4 linked regions of the Homo sapiens genome follow. The protein of the gene in region 4 interacts with the protein of the main gene of each other region in a biochemical or structural test. Each region holds a gene or a part of one and is shown on either strand. Other genes may lie near its edges.

The links.
Region 1: the proteins of SIN3B (region 4) and NR1D2 form a complex in vitro, tested with the Homo sapiens proteins (one study listed by BioGRID).
Region 2: the proteins of SIN3B (region 4) and REST form a complex in vitro, tested with the Homo sapiens proteins (one study listed by BioGRID).
Region 3: the proteins of SIN3B (region 4) and SUDS3 form a complex in vitro, tested with the Homo sapiens proteins (one study listed by BioGRID).

Annotation. Positions count from the first base shown.
Region 1 is NC_000003.12:23,940,810-23,948,301, forward strand, and holds the start of NR1D2 (nuclear receptor subfamily 1 group D member 2), read left to right. Parts: upstream 1-4,476; 5' UTR 4,477-4,769; coding exon 4,770-4,785; intron 4,786-5,311; exon of another isoform or gene 5,312-5,444; intron 5,445-5,513; exon of another isoform or gene 5,514-5,753; intron 5,754-7,492. UniProt on the Homo sapiens protein: Transcriptional repressor which coordinates circadian rhythm and metabolic pathways in a heme-dependent manner.
Region 2 is NC_000004.12:56,931,877-56,936,360, forward strand, and holds the end of REST (RE1-silencing transcription factor), read left to right. Parts: coding exon 1-276; 3' UTR 277-3,968; downstream 3,969-4,484. UniProt on the Homo sapiens protein: Transcriptional repressor which binds neuron-restrictive silencer element (NRSE) and represses neuronal gene transcription in non-neuronal cells.
Region 3 is NC_000012.12:118,414,541-118,418,558, reverse strand, and holds the end of SUDS3 (sin3 histone deacetylase corepressor complex component SDS3), read right to left. Parts: 3' UTR 526-4,018; downstream 1-525.
Region 4 is NC_000019.10:16,824,541-16,832,404, reverse strand, and holds the start of SIN3B (paired amphipathic helix protein Sin3b), read right to left. Parts: upstream 3,008-7,864; 5' UTR 2,985-3,007; coding exon 2,865-2,984; intron 2,615-2,864; coding exon 2,508-2,614; intron 912-2,507; coding exon 758-911; intron 1-757.

The sequences.
Region 1 (7,492 bases), on a different chromosome or scaffold from region 4:
TAAAGAAAAAAATAGCCTGGAAGAAGGTACGTCACAAATGTCATGATGAACGGCAACTGCAATTTGCTGTGTCACAGCAAACTGCCAGAGCTATTTGTTGCTATGTGATGATGTCGCTGCTCTGAGACAAACATGCTTGGGAATTTTTGTGTTTTAAATGTCTCTGTTTTCATTTCTAATAAGTAGATCTTGATATAGTCCACAAAAAAAGTACTTTGTGGTCTTCAACAATTTTAAGAGTGCAGAGTTCTGAGATCAAAAGTTTGAGAACTGCTCATCTAGGGCATAGAAAAGGCAATTTAAGTGGCATGTTGTTTCGGTATTAGGAGCTAGCAGGACTCATTGGAACATTTTAAAATGAGGAATGACCTTAAATGTTTTTAATTGGCCTTATCTTTAATAGACTTCACCTTTCTCTTTTTTTCCTAATGCCCCTCCTTCATCTAGGTCCTCATACTGCAGTGCGCCACTTGGCCTATCTTACTTGAGTTTGGGATAAGAGGACTCTTAACATTTAGGCTCTTCTTTCCTTTATTCATATCTAGATGGACCTATCTTGTGTTGTTTTGCAGGCTCTGTTAATTGTATGTAAGGGCTAATGAGGTAGCTTTCCTAGAAAGTAATTTGCATTTTTAACAGATAACTTTTGAAGACACAGTCACTTCATTCAACAGTTATTTTGGTCAGAATGAGGAAGGTGGAGTAGGTAGAAATCCACTATGAATATTCTGAGAATCCCAACAGACTAAGCCATAGACACCACAGGATTAATAAATGAGGCTCCTTGGAATGACAGCAGCAAAAGGCAATTTCCACCGCAGCTACAGCACGCTGGGTACTGCCCAACCAGAGGATGCTCCTGAGCATCCTCCTCTGGCACTGAGGAGCCCAGCGAATTTCCAGTGGCCAGTGGTGTGGCTGGTGACTGACTTGGGTTATAGCTCTATAGCCTCTACTAGTTACTTGCAAAGTCTCATAGGAAGAAGGCAGCCTCTAAAAAACGCTGAGGCTCATAGACACTGATATTATTTTATAGACACTATCATCGAAGAGAGGGTCTTAAAGATATACTTTGCAATGGCTATTTTTCACTTACATTCTTCTTTTCAAATTTAAATAGTGGTAACCTCTTATACAATTTTAAATAGTCTTTATTTATTTACTTATTTATTTATTTATTTATTTTTGAGACAGAGTCTCACTCTGTTGCCTAGGCTGGAGTGCAGTGGCATGATCTCAGCTTACGATAAACTCTGCCTCCCGGGTTCAAGGGATTCTCGTGACTCAACCTCCCTAGTGGCTAGGATTACAGGTGTGTGCTACCACATCCGGCTAATTTTTGTATTTTTAGTAGAGACGGGGTTTTGTCAAGTTGGCCAGGCTGGTCTTGAACTCCTGGCCTCAAGAGATCCGCCTGCCTTGACCTCTCAAAGTGCTGGGATTACAAGCGTGAGCCACCGCGCCTGGCCTAGAGCAGTACTGTGAACTTCAGAGTTCCCAAGCACCTCCTGCCTCCACAAACGCACAGCTTCTCCCACTATCAAACATCCTGCGACACGGTGGTACATTTGTTACCACTATCGAACCTACACTGATACATCATTCAAAGCCATAGTTTATTTTTTCATTTTATTTTTTTGAGACAGAGTTTTGCTCTTGTTGCCCAGGCTGGAGTGCAACGGCACGATCTCGGCTCACCGCAACCTCCGCCTCCCAGGTTCAAGCGATTCTCCTGCTCCACCCTCCATATTAGCTGGGATTACAGGCATGTGCCACCATGCCCGGCTAATTTTGTATTTTTAGTAGAGACGGGGTTTCTCCACGTTGGTCAGTCTGGTGTCAAACTCCTGATCTCAGATGATCTGCCGTCCTCGGCCTCCCAAAGTGCTGGGTGAGCCACCGCTCCCGGCCTCAAAGCCACAGTTTACATTAGGATACACTTCTTTTTTTTTTCGAGACGGGATCTCCTTGCTCTGTCACCCAGACTGGAATGCACTGGGGAGATCATGACTTACTGCAGCCTCAACCTCCCAGATCAAGAGATGCTCCTGCATCAGCCTCTTGAGTAGCTGGGACTACAGTTGCACACCACCAAACCCGGCTAATTTTTGTATTTTTTGTAGAGATGGAGTTTCGCCATATCGCCCAGGCTAGTCTCCGATTCTCCAATACCTGGGCTCATTGATCCTTCCACATCAGTCTCCCAAAGTGCTGGGATTACAGGTGTGAGCCACTGCGCCCTGCCAGGGCTCACTCTTGACGTTGTAGGTTCTAGTTTTGACAAATGTGTAAAAACATATATTCACCATTATAGTATCATACAGAATACTTTCCCTGCCCTAAAAATCCTCTGTGCTCTATTCATCCCTCCTTCCCCTCTAGCCTTTAGTAACCACTGATCTTTCTACTGTCTCCAGTTTTGCCTTTTCTTCCTTTTTTTGAGACAGAGTTTTGCTCTTTTTGCCCAGGCTGGAGTGCAATGGCGCGATCTCGGCTCACCGCAACTTCCGCCTTCCGGGTTCAAGCGATTCTCCTGCCTCAGCCTCCCGAGTAGCTGGGATTACAGGCATGCGCCACCACCCCGGCTAATTTTGTATTTTTAGTAGAGATGGGGTTTCTCCATGTTGGTCAGGCTGGTCTTGAACTCCTGACCTCAGGTGATCCACCCGCCTTGGCCTCCCAAAGTGCTGGGATTACAGGCGTCAGCCCCCGCGCCCAGCCCAGTTTTGCCTTTTCTAGAATGTCGTATAGTTGGAATCATACAGTACACAGCCTTTTTAGAGTGGTATCCTCTTTTATGATTTCTTTTCTGCCTTCTAGACTGTTCATATTAACCTCATTTTACCTGTGTAGAAGTAGATGGTAGTTGATACATGAAAAAGCAAGCAAGCTACAAAGCGTGGCCTGGGGAACTCTTCCATCAGCATCACATGAGGGTGATAAATTCCAGAAGTAGGGAAGAATAGAGGGCTACCGTGATTAGGGAACTGTGTTTAGAAGGGTTTGGGTATCAAGACAGCCTTGGAAAGAGAAGCAGGACCCACATCTGTGCAGGGCGAAGCAGGTCAGGTTAAGTCGTTGAATTTTTTCAAAGTGTAACACGAAGCCATTGGAGGGTTTTCAGCAGAGTAATCAGATCTTATTTACATTTTAAAAATAATACTTTGACTGCTGGGGAGAAGTGACTGTAGGAGGACCCAAGAAGCACTCTCCTAGTTAGGGAACCAGAGCAGTAGCTGAGGCAAGAGATAATGGTTTGCTCTAGCAATACCAACGGTGAGAAACAGGGATTGAACATATTTTGAAGGTAGAATAGCTCAGACTTGCTAATGGATTGAATGGAGAATAAAAGGCTGTGAGAGTGTTAGGAGAGAAACATAATTTTGCTGGCTTCAGGAACTTGCAGATTTACCAAAACAGTAAATATTGATATGGTGAAGAAACCTGGGGGGTGGGGAAATAGGGTGTTGCACATGTAAATATGTCTTCCACGTGACATTTTCCCCACCTTCTATAGTGAAGAATTTCAGAGCAAACTGGAAAGAGTTTTACAAGCAACACCCATATCCCCATCGCCTAAGTTTAACATCTTACCATATCATCTATTCATGCCTCTATCAGCCCATCTTACTTCAGTAATGCGTTTAAATTGCGGGCATCAATGCACTTTCCTCAGAATTCACCTCAGCACGCATACAATTTATGTCTAGCTTTTTTCTTTTGATCTAAAATTTACATTCAAGGTGAAACGCCCAGATCTTGACTGCACATTAGCTGAGTTCGGACACACGCGTACACCCGTCTAAAATCTGAGATGCAAAAAAGCGGCATAATCAAACGGGCTGCTGGATGTAGGAATCTGGAGATTAGAAGAGAGGTCTTGGCTTGAAATATAAATCTGGGAATCACAAGAACATAGGTCTACTTAAGCTATGAGATTGGATAAAATCACCTAGAGGGTGCAGAGGGAAAGGGAAGGGTCTGTGCCCTCAGAGACCAGCGTTTGGAGGTCGGTCGGGTGGGAGCGGGGGGTGGGGGTGGGGGGCGCAAGGGTTGAGCAAGCCCGAACCAGCCGGCCCAGCCGGGGTCCTGAGAATCACCCTTGCTCGGCGCCAAGCCACCGCTTTGACCTAAGAGCCACCAGGTTGGGGGGCAGGGCGTGGAGAGGACTCCCGGCCAGAGGCGGGAAAGGCAGCCGGGAGGAGAGGAAAGAGGAGGAGGAGGGGAGGAATATGCGGCGGAGGGAAACGGAGAAGAGGTTTACGGCACGGAGGGGAAAAACGAAGGAAGAGGAGGGGCTCGGCAAGGAGAAGGAAGGGGAGAAGGGGGAAGCGCAGGAGAAAAGGGTAGCCGGGGAGCCGGGAAGCGGGCGGGAGGGAGGGGAGCGGCGGGGCGGAGGTCGCCGCAGCGGCCGGCCGAGGGCGGGCGGAGGGAGGGGGTGTGTGCGCGGGTCACATGGTCGCGGCTGCCCTCCCCGTCAGCCGCCCTCGCCGCCGCGGTGCGCTGGCTGCAGGAAGCCGCCGCGCCGCCGCTTTTGTTGTCAGGGACCCAGCGAGGAGCGCCGCTCGCCGGCCGCCGCCACCCTCTCTCGCTGCAGCCTGCTGTGCGCTGCACGGCCTGGGGCCCGGGAGCCCCGCCCGCTCTGCCCATGAGGGGGCCCCGCGACCACCGCTGCTTCCAGCCCGGGGCGGCGCGGCGCTGAGGCGGCGGCGGCGGCGCTGCCCCCTCTGCGGGAAGCGGGCGGCCCCGGCCGCCTCCGCGAGGGCACCATGGAGGTGAATGCAGGTAAGAACCGGACTGCGGCGGGTGGGGGATGGCCGGAGGGAGCGCTCAGAGCCCGCGGGGCACTTTGGGGGGCGGCGGCAGGGGGTGTCCCCATGGCCGGTGGGGCGGGGTGGGCTGCTGCGCGCCGCGTGTCCGCCTCTGGCTCGGTTCCCATCGCCCCCCGGGCCGCCCGGCGCCCGCCCTCTTGTCTCCCTGCAAAGCCGCAGCGCGGCCTGCCGGCGCCCGGCCCGGCCCCCCCCTCACATGGCCCGGCCGCGCGAGCCACGTGCGCGCTGTGTTTACGTTCGGCGGCGCGCGGGCGCCGGTTGGCTGGGCGGGCGCGTGACGCGGCATTACATAATGGGCGCTGAGGCGGCGGCGGCGGGCGGGGACACGTGAGGCCGCTCGGCTCCCTGACCCACATTCCCCGGGGCCGCAGGGACACGTGGGGGCGGGGGCGCGCGCGCGCGCGCTGGCTGGGAGCGCCGCAGCCTCCCGGGAGGCTCCGCCCCTTTGGAAGCCTCGGGGCAGTGACGTCGCCGCGATTCCCTCCTCCCCCGCGGGGTTGCACACTGCGGAGGAGGCCGCGCGTGCGCGCCCGCTGAGCCCCCGCGGCGGGGCGTCCCCGAAGCGGGCGCTGACACCGCAGTGCACCGGACGCCGCACGCTCTTTTCGCGAGGTGACCCCAAGGCGCGGACCCCGCGCAAACCAAACGAACCGGCGCCTGGGGAGGCTGGTAGCTGCATACCTTGCAGATTCCGAGGAGGAAGTGCAGGACGAGGGCGTGCTGCAGGCCGGAGGAGGCGCCTCGGGGAAGGCGTGGGGCTTTCCCGAAGGGATACGCTCGAAGGAGCTCTGAGGTGCTTCGATCCCGAGCGACTCCCCGCAGACTGGGTAGCACCGCCCCTGTTAGGATGCCGTCTGTTTACAAAAAAAACCGTTTGCTCTAGGACGCGACCTGTCTCATACACACACAGTCTTAAAAACTGCTTCCAGATCCCTTCGGGCTGGAGTTTTCCAGTAAACGGGTCACACCCGCAGCTGAGCGTGCAGCTCACGTATGGTCAGGATGACTCAGGTGATCATAGGTGACTCCAACACCATATGTAAGACTGGACATTCTTCATTTAAATTAAAAAAAAATTAACCTGTGGGTCGCTGACTTTTCCTGAATCTGATCAAGAGAATTTGGCTTTATAAATATTTTTCTTGTCACATTTTGTTACATTGCAACGGAACAACAGGGTGCCCTTCCCTCCTTTTGTCTGCCCCAAATGATGAGGTAGATCTGAAGTGAGTGAGGTTATGGAAACAGCCAGCTTTTGTTTTATTTTTTGAGTTGCAATGCGCCTCTAAGAATCTTGCCTCGATAACAAATGTATTGTGAACTTTTCACCAAAAGTAAAAATAAAGTCACTTTCTAATTTTATTTACGTATTTTTAGAATTTACTTATTTTTTTTAACCTGTTGTCTCACAAAAATCTGGATCTAATTGTGTTTTGATTACCTAATCGGCCTACTTAGCCTTTGAGGGTATTTTTAAAATTTTATGAGTTTATCATAGAATTAAACTTCTACATGTTAGAATTCAGAGGTGATCAGGGTGAACCTCTTCTAACCCACCCTTTAGCATGAATTCTAATAGCTTTAGTAACCTCATAAGGGCTGGCTCAATTAGGAAGTTTTTCTCTGGTTTGAGCCCTCTTCCAATACTTCGCTGATCTAAATCTTGCCTCGTGGAGCAAGGCACATTATAAAAATTCCTCCGGATGAATGTTGACCATCCCCTTCCCCCTTCAGTTCTTCCATTTACAGTTCTCATCTCTTTGTCCTTGCCCAGCATTGTTTTTTCTGATCACTCATCATCCTTGTTGCCGTTTGGGATGGAGCACCCAGAAGTGAACAGGCTCTTGTGGAAGTGGTTGGATGATTATCAAGTTCCAAGTTGCCCTCTTTGTCTTGAATCCTGTTGCAAATGAATTCCCTGGCAGGCTTAGTATTTTTGGCATGTTGCTTTGCTGACTCACAGTAACCTTGCAGTCAACTAGGACCTTTCACGTGAACTATTATGAAGTTAGATTTCATTCATTGTGCAGATAATTGCATGACTTGAAGTGTAGGAATTTACAATGACCATTCTTAAAATTTCTCTCGTTCATTTGGCCTTAAGTTCAAAGCTGTTACAAGCTGTTACCCACCATGTTTACAGTTTCTGCTATCTATCAGTAAGCAGGAGGTCTAATAAGAATTGCCTTAAACTGGCCGGGCACAGTGGCTCACGCCTGTAATCCCAGCACTTTGGGAGGCTGAGCCGGGCGGATCCCCTGAGGTAAGGAGTTCGAGACCAGCCTGGCCAACATGGTGAAACCCCGTCTCTACTAAAAGGACAAAAATTAGCCGGGCGTGGTGGTGGGCTCCTGTAATCCCAGCTACTTATGAGGCTGAGCAGCAGAATAGCTTGAACCTGGGAGGTGAAGATTGCAGTGAGCCGACATCGCGCTACTGCACTCCAGCCTGGGCGACAAGAGCGAGACTCCCATCTCAAAAAAAAAAAAAAGCCTTTTAACTTTCGAATTTTTGTAAACATTGACCAAGGTGGGGCCAGATTCAGCGCTGTGTGGCACACCTCTACCCTTCCCTCTAGTTTGGTTATCAGTTGACAAACATTCAACCAGTGATCCTGTAATCTTACTGTCCTTCGTGACATCTCTATGTCTCCTCGCCCC
Region 2 (4,484 bases), on a different chromosome or scaffold from region 4:
GAAGATGAAGGCATCCACAGCCATGAAGGAAGTGACCTAAGTGACAACATGTCAGAGGGTAGTGATGATTCTGGATTGCATGGGGCTCGGCCAGTTCCACAAGAATCTAGCAGAAAAAATGCAAAGGAAGCCTTGGCAGTCAAAGCGGCTAAGGGAGATTTTGTTTGTATCTTCTGTGATCGTTCTTTCAGAAAGGGAAAAGATTACAGCAAACACCTCAATCGCCATTTGGTTAATGTGTACTATCTTGAAGAAGCAGCTCAAGGGCAGGAGTAATGAAACTTTGAACAAGGTTTCAGTTCTTAGTTTGTAAGGTATATTACATTTTATATTCATTTATGATAGCAGACAACCTTTTAAGATTGCTTTAATTAGTATCTGATGTTGATTTTTAAGTGGCATTCTTTTCCTTAGGACTTTTTATGTATACCTGTTGATTGTTGTGTAAATTTTAGTAAATCTAAGAGAGTGTACTAAACCAGCAGGTATCTGTTAGCTTATGTGTTTAATTGAAATTAGAAGGCTAAGATGGTATAACAGCATTTTATTGCTTTGTCCAGCTACAACTTGTCATTTTTTTCTCCATGTCTTATCTTCCTGTTTCACTTTAGTTTATTCTTCGTTTTTTATTGAGATCTATAAAAAATTGGCTTACTTAATAGCAAATTACTTGAAGAATTTGCCTGCTTTATATAAAGTTAGCACTTTAAGATTTTTTTTTTTAGAGATGAGAAGACATTTAAATTGAAGAAAAATTCCCCCAGCAATAGACAGTCTATCAGTCCAAGTATTTACTTCCTGAGTTTTGATCAATATTTTTTATTTGTGTATGTTAATCGTCATAAAAACAGTGATTTTGGTGTGTTTTTTATTTTGGTGCTTTAATGGCTTAAGATGTTGCACATTTTTTTTTTCTTTTGGTTTCTGTTTATGTTTTTTTGCCTATGCAGTTAAATTTTTCCTAGAAATAGCATTTGTGTTGAACAGTAACACTTTATACATATATATATGCATGTTTATTTTGTTTGGCGTCTTTGGAGGGATGCTTTTAGACTTGTTTGCAAAAGGGCAGTTTTCTTTTTCTTTGCTGCAGTTGTCTATTTTGCAGAATAATAGTGTGTGCAAGTTTGTGAGCAAATGAAATATGCAGGTTCAATCTATTGATTTTGATTTTTACATCTTATATCTATGCCAGAATCTGTATTTCATATAACTTATTTATTTCGAATGGATGTAGTAAATTCACAGCTATCAGTTTTGATTTTGCAATAAATAAACCACTAGGTTGCATGTCGAACAAATTTTTATCTCAAATACCAACCATCAGTTTTTTTTTTCATGTGTTTTGGTACAGCTAATTCCTAATTGTAGAGTGTTAAATGTTTGAGGAGAACCTTTTCTCATAGATGGTTGGTGTTCATATGGCTACTTTACAATAAAGAGAACTGTAAGTGATATTTGGAAACTACAAACCTGGAATTAGGAGATATAATTATTCCTTCAAGTTTTATAGAATATCACTTGGGAGATTCCAAAGCCATAGCTATTACGCGGCAAACCTAGGATAAGAAAGGTAGTATGAGTGCTGGTAGACCAGCTGCAACTTTCCTATACAGTGAAAAAGGCTGGTGAAACAAGTACAGTCCAGATTTTTTAAAATCATACTTTCTCAGGGATCTCCACAAACTGGTGGGTGTCCTGGCTGTCTGTGTGATAGCCTCTTTCTATAGGTGAGGCCTCAAATGAATTGCAGCTATCCTGGTGTTCCTATGAGGGCACTTTGTATGAAAAAGGGCATGTACTCCAAAACATTTTTGTAGGTTCTTTGGCCAGTTGCCAAAGAGTGTGAAAGAATCCAATAGAGGATTTTTCTTACTGATAGCAGTCATTCATTGCAGTAAAATAAAATATGATCCCATTAGGGAATCTTGAATTCTGACCTCCCATACTCCGTTTTGAAATAACCACTTTATATTTCATTTTTTAAAAATCTGATGATCTCTTTGAGGCAGGTTTCAGATTTGGCAGTACAACATGAAAGATTAGGAAAAGCATTAATAACGTGTGGGTGGAAAGCTTGTTAAAAATCTGAGAGTGAAGTTTGAGTTAAAAGTTGTTTGAACATGGCATTGACTGGGAGGCCAAAGATTTAAAGAAGCGGAAGATTCTTCTCTTAAGACATGAGGAGTAAGTTGTGTGATAATGGTATGTGTTTTGTGTGCATGAATGGACATTGTAAATGTTGAATTCTAGGCTCCGACAATCATTGTCAACAGAAGATCAAGCTGCAAATATTTATGTTTTAAAACTTAAATTATAAAGCTAGTTAAGTCTTTCTAATGACTAGTTTTAATGTTCATGGGTACATTTTACCTAAGTTACCGTTTACATTGTATAGAAAAAGATACATCTTAAGCACAGATTGGTTATTAGGAATTAGTTTGGGGAAGAGGTTTTTTTGTGGATTCTTTCATACTGCAAAGAAAAACCATTTGCCTTTTGGGGAATTGAGCTAACTTCTAATCTAGTCTTAAGACTAGAATGCTAAAAACAAAAACATGAAGGAAATTAAAACCCCTTATTATTAAATTGATTTGTAAAAACATTGTTACTGGAAATTTATTGGACTTGAGGCCTTCCTCCAGAAAATAAGGACTTGATTGTCAGGCCTATATTAGGTTCTGAACCTTAATGCCATGTATTTGTACTTACTAAAAATTGTTTCAATGAAAAGTACATTAGCAGTATGAACTTCTGGTCCAGTTGGAAGTTTTTCCATTTGAAAAATGTGATGTTTGCATGGAACTGTTTGAAACTTTTTTATTTTCTAGTCCCCCTCCCCCACACTGGATAGAATTTAGCCTAGAATTTTCCCTTTGGATAAAAGAACAAAAATTGAACATGTTATTTGTAAATTGATGTTTAGTAATTAGTGATAAACTTGAAATACTAGCATATATTATAAGCCTTAATCTTAGGTAGTCTTATGAAAATGAATCTCTTAACTATCTTTTGAACCTGTATTCACATTGGTTTTCAAGATATTTTAAGTTATATTTTTTCCTCTTTTCAGAGCTGCTTCTTATTCTGGGGCTACTTTTTTTTTTAGTTGTGTAATTCACAAAGGGCTGCATTTTTTTTTTTTTTTAATAAGGCTTATAACTATGGCTGGATCTTTTGCTCTAGTCTTCTAAGAAGGGCCATTTTATTTTTTAGAGTCACTTCTAAAGTCATGTGGTAATTAACTTTGGAGACTGTTTTGCGTATGAGTGCTGATACAAATTAAAACCCAAGTAGACCTCATTGCATGTCACCCTATGAATGTTGACAATGGAAGGAATACCTTGCCTGTAGTATACTGTCACTTCTGGATTGATAAGCTGAGGAAGAAAGTTAAGTTTCTTTTTTACATAAGTCAGAAAAACTTACAGCTGGTGTTCCTAGTTTCCTGGTTGACCTCAGCAGATGAAGTGAACAGATAGTGTTAATTCAGATTGAAGAAATTATCTGAATCTTGGTTTGTGTAGATTTACAATCTACATGCAATATTAACTAAATCAGATAGCTTTTACAGTTTCACATGTGTACATAGGTTCCCTCCCGGTCCCTTCCATATCCATTAGTTATTGAACTTTCTAAACTGGCATTGAAACATTACAACAATGTTTTGTTGCACCAATTTTATAAACTTAAGCAGTGCAATACGTGTTACTTTTCTGAGGCAAACCAAAGGTAAATTTCTCAAGGTTCTTGCTGCCTTCTTTAGCAGCATTTGATGGAAGATCTTTTATACATTTGTAATAGATAAAAATAAACCAGATTGCAAATCCTTTTTTAAAATCCTAAACCATGTACCAAGTTTTTGGTCCAAATTATGTAGGATAAGTTAAACTTAAATTGCATTCTATTAACCAATATGAGTGTATTTCTGTAAGCATAGTTATGTTGAAATAAAGTTTTAAAAACCATGATGCCTTTGTTTATTATTGGTATATCCAGAATGTAGGAAAGCCAAATTTATGTTGCTGGAACTGCAAGTGTATTAATAGGCTTTTGAAGATTATTTCTCAGGCTGGGCGCAGTGGCTCACGCCTGTAATCCCAGCACTTTGGGAGGCTGAGGCAGGTGGATCATGAGGTCAGGATTTCAAGGCCAGCCTGGCCGACATAGTGAAACCACGTCTCTACTAAAAATACAAAAATTAGCTGCGTGTGGTGGCAGGCGCCTGTAATCCCAGCTACTCGGGAGGCTGAGGCAAGAGAATCGCTTGAACACAGGAGGTGGAGGTTGCAGTGAGCCGAGATCGTGCCATTGCACTTCAGCCCAGGCGAGAGTGTGAGACTCTGTCTTTAAAAAAAAAAAAAAAAAAAGTATCACAGGTAGAAAAGTCACAGCATGTTGTCTGAGGTAACAGTCCAGTATGGGTAGTAACCCAAAGCATACACTGCTTGATGGGAGGTGCGGGAGAAATTGGACAATTCACA
Region 3 (4,018 bases), on a different chromosome or scaffold from region 4:
AATTAGTCATATCCTTTGCTGCTAGCTCTTTGCATTCCTGGTCAATCCCTAGCCTATACCAGGTACCTGGCTCTTCTAGAACAACCATGGAAGGAAGCAGCTCAAGAGCTTGAAGGTTAAGGTACTTAAAATAGAGAAAACTAGTTGGGAGGAGTAGCTGAAAGTCTAAGGGGCTTGTGGGTTCTGGGAATGTTATTTCTTGATCTGGATGCTATAATAGTTACATGGATGAATTCACTTTGAGAGATTTCAACAACTTCTACAATTAAAACTTGTGCACATTTCTGTCTAATTCAAACATTTTAAAAACAGAAACCACCCCTCTCCATCATCTAAAGCATAAAGCAGTCTTTCCCAAAGGGGTGCCATAACTGGGTCACAGGTCGGTCACCTGTGGCAGCACGCAGGCTTGTTGGCTGACCCCGGGAGCAGTACAAATACCATCACTGTTTGGTTAAGATTGGTAGGCACTATCTCAAAAGCCAGGAACAATATCCTCCTTAATCATGCACCAAATGAACAATATCCTCAATCACAAGTTTATTTCAAGATTGTTTTTCCACCCAAGATCCATTCTATTCACTTGATTTTTAATGACTTTTATCTGCAACAAGAAGAGTGCACAAACATTTAAGGGTCAACACCCCAGATTGCTCTTTACAAAACTGAGTATTAGCCTGACATCATTCTGTATCTTAGTCTTCACTAAGAATTAAATGTCTAGAATATCCCTTCCTCTGCCCTAACTTCCTTTCCCCATAAGCAATGGATCAAAAACCTAAAATAAATTTCTATCACTTATCAAGTCAATGGATACAATACAGACTTCATGCTGGTTTTCTCTTTGAAAGTTTATTGTTTTCTTTAAAAAAAAAAAAAAACCTATACCTTTTATATTTTACATTCACCTCTCAGAATATTTAATGGTACCCGTTAACGATGTTATAAAAAAAGACCATCACCTGCTTGAAATGGCTGCAAATTTACCATGTTCTGGCATTAAAGTGATTTCAACTCTTTGGACAAATTGGTGTAACAGTAAGCACCGAGATTTCAAATTCCCAGATGAGAAAAAAAAAATTAATCAGGAGGAAATTTATTTAGTAAAAATTCAAAGCTAAAGAAATGTGAGAAGGAAGCCAAACCCAAAAAACTGTAAAAAATACAATCTTCTCTCCAGAATTAGGTTAAAAAATACAGTCAACCCCATTCTAAACCCCATATTTCTTAGAAAAGTCACCCAGTCCTGAACACAGGGTCTTATACACAAATACATGTAGCTTGATTTGCAGATCAGCCTCTGGGATCGACCTTACACTGGCCCCAATTAGAAGTTCAAAAACAAAAATTAAGTTAGGTAGTCAGACATCTATAAATACTAGTATCCGCATGAATGAAAACACCCTGGCTTTGGTATGGCTACAGAAATCCATCTGGAAATTATTCAAAAGGACGTGGTTCAGGGAAAAGGGGGTAGGCAGGGCATGGGGGGAGGGGAACACACAAAACCCCCAAGCAGAGGTAAAATGAATATTGGAACACACCCGCAGCAAACACTGTACATAGACTTGAGGCAGATGCCTCTAACACAACACATATACAGGTTCTTGATCAAAATGGTCTGGACCAACCTTTTTCAAAGTAATCACCTGCAGGAAAGAGTTTAAACTTGGAAATTCATCTGGTGCCCTGGGGTCTAGTGAGAAACAATGACCTTTTGGAATAATGGCCACCCAGGCTAGAAGCTAGCCTCCTTCTCGTCTAGAAACTTCAAAGTCTGTCTTCCCCTTTAGTAAGGCTTCTGCCCACCACAGAAGTACCCCCATCTACTAACAGGAAGGCTGCTTCTGTTCCTGGTCACCACTGAGGCCTGTCAGGCTTCAACTGCTGATTTTTCACCTCTGGGGTGACAAAAGAAAATATTAAGTCCTCTGGGATTAGAAATGTAATTTACTATGCTGATTCTCAAAATGGACTTCTCACCTGCCCCCATTTTCACTAGGCCCAATTAAGAGTTGTGAGGACGCCGAGGAGAAGGCAATGGCGGAGTCGAGACTATGACTAAGGGCGCCCTCAATACCCTCAAAAGTCAGAGAGGAGAGAAGGCAAAAGTGCCCATACCCTGGTCTTCAAATAAATAGTTGCTTCACAAAAGCAGAGGTCCCACAGAGAAGGCCAGAAAAAGAGGCAATTTGTTCCTGCTTCAATGCGGAACCCCAGTGGTTATCAATACAATCCTCAACTATAAAAACAAACTTTGGTATACTGTTTAGGAGGACAAAACACATGATCATTGAAAAACTCCACCTTCAATGGAAAAATACATGAAATATATCTAATTTCCATCGCAGGGCACTACATGAAAACCAACAGCTGCACAATATGTGATGTGACACACACATCGTATGTGTAACAGTTCAAGCGAGGGAAGTCCTGCCTCACAGTCAAGGCTAACAAACAAGAACAGGTGAAGCCTGTGTTTACCATGGGCTGGGTTCACTGTAGTAAACATCATAGCAGTCGGGGATTGGAGGGCAGAGAAGAAATACAGAACCCCAGGCAACTTTTGATAACAGCGTCATTTATCCTGTTTTCTAAATAAGACTCCAACACCAGAAAAAAAAAAAAAAAAGAGGAAAAAACGGATTGTAAGTTAAAACAAAAATCTATCTGTATAAGTCTTTACTTGTACAAGTCTGTACAAGTCAGTAAGGTTTGGTCTCTGCAGAGCCAGAACTTCAGAGAAGGTGATTTAATTGTCATCACAGTCCCCCCAACTTGCTTGGGGGTATGTACATCAAGAGACAACATGAAGAGAATCACTTGAGACCAAAAGAATTACTTACAAAGAAAGATTTCCTAGGATGTGTAAGTTCTACTGATTGCTCATAGAGACGCTAACAGTTGCTCTAACCCCAAATTTTTTGAACATCTCAAGATGGCAACATGAGTATAGAAAACCCCAACACTCATCACCCAATGAATCATTTCTCCAATCATGGGAGTGAGGGAAGGATGTAGGAAAGGCTGTTTCATCAGGACTCATTAGGGAGGGTGTCAGTCCAGAGGCAGCCACAGCAGAGCTTTCCTTGTCTTCAACCTGGGCCAAATGAAGCTGTGAGCGCTCAGGGCCTGACAACAAAGTTCTCCACAGGTTTGGAATGGCCAATGTGCAATAATGGCATCAGCCACAAGAGTGAAACTTGAATCGTGCATGAGGGTCTATAGATCACTGATTATTGCACTATCAATCTCACCTCCCACCCGTAAAAGATTACCCAGATAATCAGCCTGTGGCACATACTTACTACTACCTACTTGGGAACAAGGGAGAGGAAGGAATTACAAATGAAAACTTCTGAAATGACCACTGCTTATTCCAGCTTAAGCTAGAACAAATGTTTGAATAAATCACCTGCATTAAATAACATTTAAAATATGGTACCTTCAGCACATTATAAATATGAAATGTCCCCTCCCCCAACCCCATTTACTTCAGTGCACATAGTCTTCCAGGCAAGCTTTTCCATCGCTCAGCGAGCGGAATGGATGGTGTGCACAGATGTTACACAAAGCATTTATTTCTCTGAGAAGGCCGAGAGCCACGAGAATTCATCATCTCCTGCTAGGACCTCTGCCCCAAGCTTCTGGGCAAATAGTGAATTGGACGCGACAGGGAAAGTAGCTACGTGATCCACTAATCAGATTCAAAACATGAAAATGCACTGGAGAGTGTATCCCTTCCTGCTCTTCTCCATGGTAGAGAGACTTAAAGATAATCAATAAAAATAGCTGTCCCTTCAAACTCAGAGGAGGTTTTCAAAAACAAGTATAAGCAAAAAATAAAGAAATAAAAGGAAAGTAAATCAAACCCCCCAATACGCCTGAAAGTAAAACAGTCTCATGGTGACTGATGTCTGGAAGAAGTTGAGGCAGAAAAGACTGACAAAGTTGGAAGCATCCGGCCACAAAAGTGCCCTAAAGAATTCACTGCAGTGCTCTCCATTTCCAAGGCTGA
Region 4 (7,864 bases):
CCAACATGAAGAAACCCCATCTCTACTAAAAATACAAAAATTAGCTAAGCATGGTGGTGCACACCTGTAATCCCAGCTACTCGGGAGGCTGAGGCAGGAGAATTGCTTGAACCTGGGAGGCGGAGGTTGCACTGAGCTGAGATTGCGCCACTGCACTCCAGCCTGGGTGACAGAGCCAGACTCCGTCTCCAAAAAAAAAAAAAAAAAAAAAAAGAGGGCCAGCACCTATCACCCAAGAAAAAAGGGACCAAAGCAAAGCCAGGAGTCCCAGCTGAGCTAATGATCCTATCAACAATTAAATGAAACACAGCCAACATAAACGTGGCTACTCACACACCATCTCGACCACTTTATTTTGTAGGTGGTACTGAGAGTGATCAGAGGCAGACGAGGACATGCTTAAATACAAGGGCAAGCCTGCCTGGTATGCTCGCTGGGAAAGCCTCAAGCCAAGACCTCAGCAACTGCTGAGGTGGTTATTTAGACTTCACACAAAATTCTGCGTTAGGAGGATACCTCCCTGACATCCACTCTTGATTTAAATCTTCCAAACAGATCAATTTGGGAGGCAGAGGCTGCTTGTGTAGGTGTTTCCATATCTATTTTGATTTGTGCTAGAAGCAATGAGCACGTCTAGAAAAAGAACAGATCTTAAGTGGCTTTCTAGCAATGATACAGGAGAGACACGTGGCCCAACCTGAGTAGCAAGACATACTCGGTGAAGGCTGAGATCACCCGAACCACTGTAGTGGCATACCTGGCTTGTCAGAGGCGACTGTATGTTTAACTTGCCATTCTTGGGAATGTCTATTCTATATCCGAGGGGAAGAAAAGCGTTGAATCCAACAATGAGGTCAGGGTGCTCGTGGAAGAGCTGCGAGACACGTCTGATGACTCCAGGAGTATCGATGCTAGAAGAAACAACGGAAGTGGGCAAAAGGGTCTTGGGAAATAAATGAAAAATATAATCTATTCCCCACTCCCTTGATACTGCCACATAAAAACCTTCTCAACAGACAACAAAGGAACCTAAAATGTGACCCACCAGGCGCAGTGGCTCATGCCTGTAATCCCAGCACTTTAGGAGGCCGAGGCAGGCAGATCACCTGAGGTCAAGAGTTCGAGACCAGACTGGTCAACATGGTGAAACCCTGTCTGTACTAAAAATACAAAAACGAACTTGGAGTGGTGGTGCGTGCCTGCAGTCCCAGCTACTCAGGAGGCAGAGGCACAAGAATCACTTGCACCCGGGAGGCGGAGGCTGCAGTGAGCCCAGATCACACCACTGCACTCCAGCCTGGGCGACAGCACGAGAATCCATCTCAAAAAAAAAAAAAAAAGTGCCCCCATGTGATAGCATCTGTACACCATGACCTATCTCCTGACTGGCTAGGCCTGAGCTCCCTGTTCCCTCCTGGTGAGAACCAGAGAATACTGACATCGCTCAGCTCCCCTAAAACACTCCAAGAATGGGTACTCGGTTCTGAAAATGTCAGGAGAGCCAACCGCAAGGCCTGGACTCCAAGAAATGGCAGGAGGCCAAAGTCCTCTAAGCAATGTGAAAACTTCCCTCATTTTGTATCAGATAGAGATGACTATGACACAGGTTTCCATCTGAGCAAACAATTGCAATGCATAAATACCAATGGTACTGCCAAGAATGGGAAAGGTGTAAGAAAAATAGGAGGGGAGAGATGGGGTCTCCCTTCTGGCTGCATTGCAGCCCAGCCCTTAGCACTGGGCTCCCGGAAGGAAACCAGGCCAGCCCCACCATGTTTCCTAAGAGGGGGCAGCAGTATGGTAAGCATGTGACTTCCAAGAATCTGAGTCAGAGGGTCTGAGTTCTAGTGACACCTCTGCCACTTAGGTGGGTCCCTTACCCACTCCAAACCTCAGTGAGTCTCCTATAAAAACAAGGGCATGATCCCAGGGTTTCCCATCTATCTGTAATCTTCCTTGATTCTGGGCCTGCAAAATCATCTCATGTGTTTTAAACGTTTTCTGTGTGCCAGCTCCCTTACTAAGCATTTTATGCGTCTTACTTCCAAGCAGGCCTGGGACCACAGTGAGCCCAGAGAAGCATCTTGAGGACAAGATTAAAGGGGAAGAGGGTGCCAAAAATTTCAATCATCAAGACAATAACATTTTACAGCGCTTGAAAATAAAAATCAAAATGGGTCCCACCAAATCTTTCATGAACAAAACTAATATAAAAATCAACATATTAAATCAAGGCAGGATTTGACTCTATGAGTGTGCACGGCCTCGCCCTCCCTGCCTCCCCCCAGATCCCTGTCCTGCTTCCAGGAATCCCCACAAAGCTCCACAAGGTGGGTACTACCCATTTCCATTTTTGTTACGAGAAGGAGCTAGGGCTCTGAGAGATTGGACAACCTGCGCAAGGTCACCCGGCTAAGGGGGCAGGCTGGAGAGGGGAGGTCTCACCCCGCTAGGCCCGATTCCGGCCCAGGGGGGTCCCCTGAGGTGGAGAGGGGCCCCGCTGGTACCTCTGGCTTTTGAACTCCTTCATGATCTCCAGGAAGCCGTTGTAGGTGGCAGGGTCGCTGCCAAAGCGGATCTTCACCTGGTCCAGATAGGTGAGGGCGTCTTCTACCTGCAGAGAGGGGGAGGGTCCCGGTGGGCCCTGGCCGCGGAACGAGGGGACGAGGGGCCGGGGTCCCTGAGGGGAAGGGGATGGGCTGGGCTTTCGGAGGGCCGAGGTGAGAGGTGAGGGGTGAGGGGTCCGGGGCAGTGCAGAGGGGAGGCCGAGGTGGGGCTGGGGCCGGGCGGGGCCTGGGTGAGGGGCGCCCGCCCGCGGGGTCCAGAAGATGGGTTCCCCGAGGGAGGGCGGGGACGCCACTCACGTGCACCGGCAGCTTCTCGTGGCCTGCGGAGCCCGAGCGACCCCAGCGGGCGCCGCTCAGCCCCCGGCCCGCGGGGCCGCCGGCACCGCTGCCACCGCTGCCACCGCCAGCGTGCGCCATGTCCGAAGTCGGAGCTGCGCCCCGCCCCGCCCCCGCCCGAGGTCCTGCCGCGCATGCGCAGCCTCCGCCTTTGGAGGCGGGGTTTGATGACGTTGAGGGGCGGTGCTCTTTGAGGGACTCTTCTGAAGACCTTCTCCTTAAGATTGGTATCATAATTAATGATTTATATAGCAGGGGTAGGCGAGCCAAGACCCGCCGCCTACTTTGTCCGGCCCCGCAAGCTCAGAATTATTTTTACATGTTTACATAGCCGGGGGAAAAATCCAAAGAAGAATAGTCTATGACCTGTGAAAAGTTTGTGAAATTCACATTTGAGGGTCCCTGAATAAAGTTTTATTAGCACACAGACACGCCCACGCGTTTACCTGGCTTCTCTGCCTGCTTTCGCCTTACAACAGAGTAGGTAGTTGCTAAAGATCCTACAGATCTGCAGACCCTGAAGTATTTACGATCTGGCCTTTTATGGAAAAAGTTTGTTGGCCCCTGCTTTATAGAGTTGACGGGACGATGAGGTATGAGCCCCCAGCGCCCTAATATAGGGCCTTGCGTGGTGAATTTTTGCTAAATGGCCTTTAAGTTAGTCCTACTCCTCCCATCTTCACTTCCCTATCCTTGGCCCCGTCACTTCCCATCTGGACCAGTTTAGGAGCCTCCTAACTCTGGTACTTTCTTTTTTTTTTTTTTTTTTTTTTTTTTTTTTTGAGACAGAGTCTCGCTCTGTCGCCCAGGCTGGAGTGCAGTGGCGCGATTTCCGCTCACTGCAAGCTCCGCCTCCCGAGTTCACACCATTCTCCTGCCTCAGCCTCCTGAGTAGCTGGGACTACAGGCGCCCGCCACTGCGCCCTGCTAATTTTTTGTACTTTTAGTGCCACCCCACCTGGCTCTAACTCTGGTACTTTCTCAGCCCTGATACTATCAAGAACTCTAGGCTGGGGATGGTGGCTCACGCCTGTAATCCCAGCACTTTGGGAGGCCGAGGCGGACGGATCACGAGGTCAGGAGATAGAGACCATCCTGGCTAACACGGTGCAACCCCGTCTCTACTAAAAATACAAAAAATTAGCCGGGCCTTGAAAAAAAGAAAAAGAAAATGAAAAAATTGGCTGGGCGCCGTGGCTCACGCCTGTAATCCCAGCACTTTGGGACGCCGAGGCGGGCAGATCACCTGAGGTCTGGAGTTGGAGATTAGCCTGACCAACATGGAGAAACCCCGTCTCTACTAAAAATACAAAATTAGCCGGGCTTTGTGGCGCATGCCTGTAATCCCAGCTACTCGGGAGGCTGAGGCAAGAGAATTGCTTGAACCCGGGAGGCGGAGGTTGCAGTGAGCCAAGATCACGCCATTGCACTCCAGCCTGGGCAACAAGAGCAAAAACTCTGTCTCAAAAAATTAATTAATTAATTAATTAAATAATAAAATAAAATGAAAAAATTAGCTGGGCGTGGTGGTGCACACGTTTAGTCCCAGCTACTCGGGAGGCTGAGGCAGGATTGCTCATGCCCAAGAGTTCAAGGCTGCAGTGAGCCATGATCTTGCCACTGCACACCCCAGCCTGGGAAGCATAGCAGTGCTTTTTTTTTTTTTTTTTTTTAAAGAGCATCTCATCTCTTAAAAAAAAAAAAACAGAAAAACAAAAAACTCCACTTTTTCCACCACTCCTTCCAAACCTCCAAGGTCTTCCTATTTCTAATGAGATGAAATCTAAGCACCTACATTGCAGGCTGTCAGAATTGGTCCTTAGGAACCTTTTCCTGCAGGATTTTCCAAGCAAACTGCCTGCCTCTGTGCAGAACTTCACACAATTGCCTGACCAACCTGGCTGCTTCCTGGTCCCAAGCATTGGCACTCACCATTTCCTTTGCCAGAAGTACTGTCATGCCTCTTTGTTATTCAGAAAACACCTATACATCCTTCTAAACGCAGCCCAAATATCCCTTTCCCTCAGGAAGTGTTCCCAGTCCCCTTCTATGTCTCCCCTCAGTCCCTTGTATTTCATATTTGTTTTGTGTCCGTCTCTAATACAAATCCCTGACACAGTCTCTCAGTCAGCATTCATCAAATAAGTGAACGTTCAATTAATGACCAAGTGCTTTCTCTTTTTATAAGTGAAGAGGTGCAGGAAAGTTGAGAGTAAATTGGCATCGAGTGCATCATTTACCAGGCACCTTGCTAAGTGTCAGGAATAGAATGGTAAAAAGGAACGCAAATTTGGCCGTTAAGAGCTTTTAGTCTCTCAGGATAGACAGGAATCTAGTAATCACACAAATGTAAAGTTTCACATGTAACAAATACTTTAAAGAGAAGGTATACATGTAACAGTTCCTAAATTTCTGTTGCTATGACTGTGTAACAAATGAGCCCTTGACAATCCCAGCACTTTGGGAGGCCAAGGTGGGGGCATGCATTGAGGCCAGGAGTTTGAGACCAGCCCAGGCAACATAGCAAGATCCCATCTGTACAAAAACATTAAAAAGAAAGAAAAATGGAGAGAAAAAATAAAAACATTGTAAGGTCTGGGCTTTCTGTAAAAGAAAATAAAAAGCAGCTCAAGACTTAGAAGCTTCAAATGACAACAACATTCACGGGGCAAGTGGCTCATGGCTGTAATCCCAGCACTTTGGGAGGCAGAGGTGGGTGGATCACATGAGGCCAGGAGTTCAAGACCAGCCTGGACAAGATGGTGAAATCCCATCTCTACTAAAAATACAATAATTAGCCAGGTGTGGTGGCACACACCTGTAATCCCAGCTACTTGGGAGGTTGAGGCATGAGTATCGCTTGAACCCAGAAGGTGGAGGTTGCAATGAGCTGAGATTGCGCCACTGCACTCCAGCCTGGGGAACAGAGCAAGAGCAAGACCCTGTCTTGAAAAAAAAAAAAAAAGAAAGAAAAGAGACATTCATTTTACTCTTCAATCTGCAATTTGGGCAGGCTTGGGAGGAATAACTCAACCTTGGCATCAGCTGGGTGGCTCAAAGTCTGGGGGCTGGAATCACCTGAATGTTTGCTCACACATATGTATGTCAGTTGCTACAGGCTACAGGCCGAGACCCTCGCTGGGGCCGTTGCTTGGAATACCTACATGTGGTCTCCTTGCAGCCTGAGCTTCTTCACAACTACCGTTCTAAGAACAAGTGAGCGTGTGAGCCAGGTGGGAATCATATCATCTTTTCTTTTTCTTCTTCCTCTTCCTCTTCTTCTTCCTCTTCTCCTTCTCCTTCTTCTTCTTCCGGAGATGGCAGGGGTTGGGGTGGGACTCAGGGTCTCAGGCTGGCCCAGGCTGGCCTCAAACTCCTGGACTCAAAGGATCCTCCCACGTCAATCTGTTGAGTAGCTGGGACTACAGGCATGCATCACTGCACCCAGCTCCCATATTACCTTTTCTCACCCAGACTCGGAAGTCACGCAGAATCATTTCCATTGCATTCTTTCCATACAGGCTGTTACAAAGTTTTTCCTAAATTCAAGAGGAGGGCAAATGGCCAAGAGTATCATGTGGGACAGGAAATATGTTGTGGCTATTTTTGGAAAATACCACCTGTTACCTAGGGAAACCTAACCCAGTCTTGCAGGAGATGAGGGAGGCTTCCCAGAGGAGGTGGCATTCTAGCTGAGATCTGAAGAATGCGTAGGCATTCATCATGAGAAAAATCACGAACAGCTGTGATTTTTGAGGTGGGAGACAGCATGGTACATTTCAAGAGTTTTTTTTTTTTTAAGACGAGTTTCCCAGGCTGCAGAGAGGGAGGGGAAGAAAGAGAGTACAAGATAATCCCGGAGCAGCCAGAGGAGCGGAACACACAGCACCTTATGCACTGAGTTCAGGCTTTAGCATTCACGCTGGTGGAAACCATCCAAGGGCTTTGAGCGGAGGAGCTGCAAGTTCAGGTTTGCATTTGAAAGTGATCACTCTGGCTGCTCTGCAGGAAAGTGATTGGAGCGGAGCCAGGGAGGGTGGAGGGAGGCTGTTTCATCATTTAGGCAAAGGACGATGGTGGCTTAGACCAGGATGGGAGCAGTGGAAGTAGAGAGCGGTGGGTGGAAGGGAGTGGTATTTAGAAAGTAAAGCATGGAAGATTTGTGGCTCCCAGCCAGGAAGAGCAGCGAAGGCAGACTGAACACTCTGTGGCCACCAGATGTCTGGACAGTCCGTTTCTTACCAAAGCCTCCCAGTGTTACAGGAAATGGGTCCCGATCCAGACCCCCCAGAGAGGGTTTTTGGATTTCACGCAAGAAAGAATTCAGGGAGAGTCTGTAAAGTGAAAGCAAGTTTATAAGGAAAATAAAGGAACAAAGAATGGCTACTCCACAGACAGAGCAGCCCCGAGGGCCGCTTATTCCCCATTTTTATGATTTATTTCTTGATGATATGCTAAACAAGGGGTGGATTATTCATGCCTCCTCTTTTTAGACCATAGAGGGTAACTTCCTGACGTTGCCATGGCATTTCTAAACTGTCTTGGCGCTGGTGGGAGTGTAGCAGTGAGGACCACCAGAGGTCATTTTGATTTGGGTAGATTTTGGCCGGCTTCTTTACTGCAACCTGTTTTATCAGCAAGGTCTTTATGACCCGTATGTTGTGCTGACCTCCTATCTCATCCTGTGACTAAGAATGCTTTAACCATCTGGGAATGCAGTGCAGTAGGTCTTAGTCTTATTTTACCCAGCCCCTATTCAAGTCGGGGTTCCTCTGGTTCAAACACCTCTGACACTGTTACGGGAAAGGGGTCCCAATCCAGACCCCAAGAGAGGGTTCTTGGATCTCACGCAAGAAAGAATTCAGGGCCAGTCCATACAGTAAACTGAAAGTAAGTTTATTAGGAAAGTAAAGGACTAAAGAATGGCTACTCCATAGACAGAGCAGCCCCCAGGGCTGCTG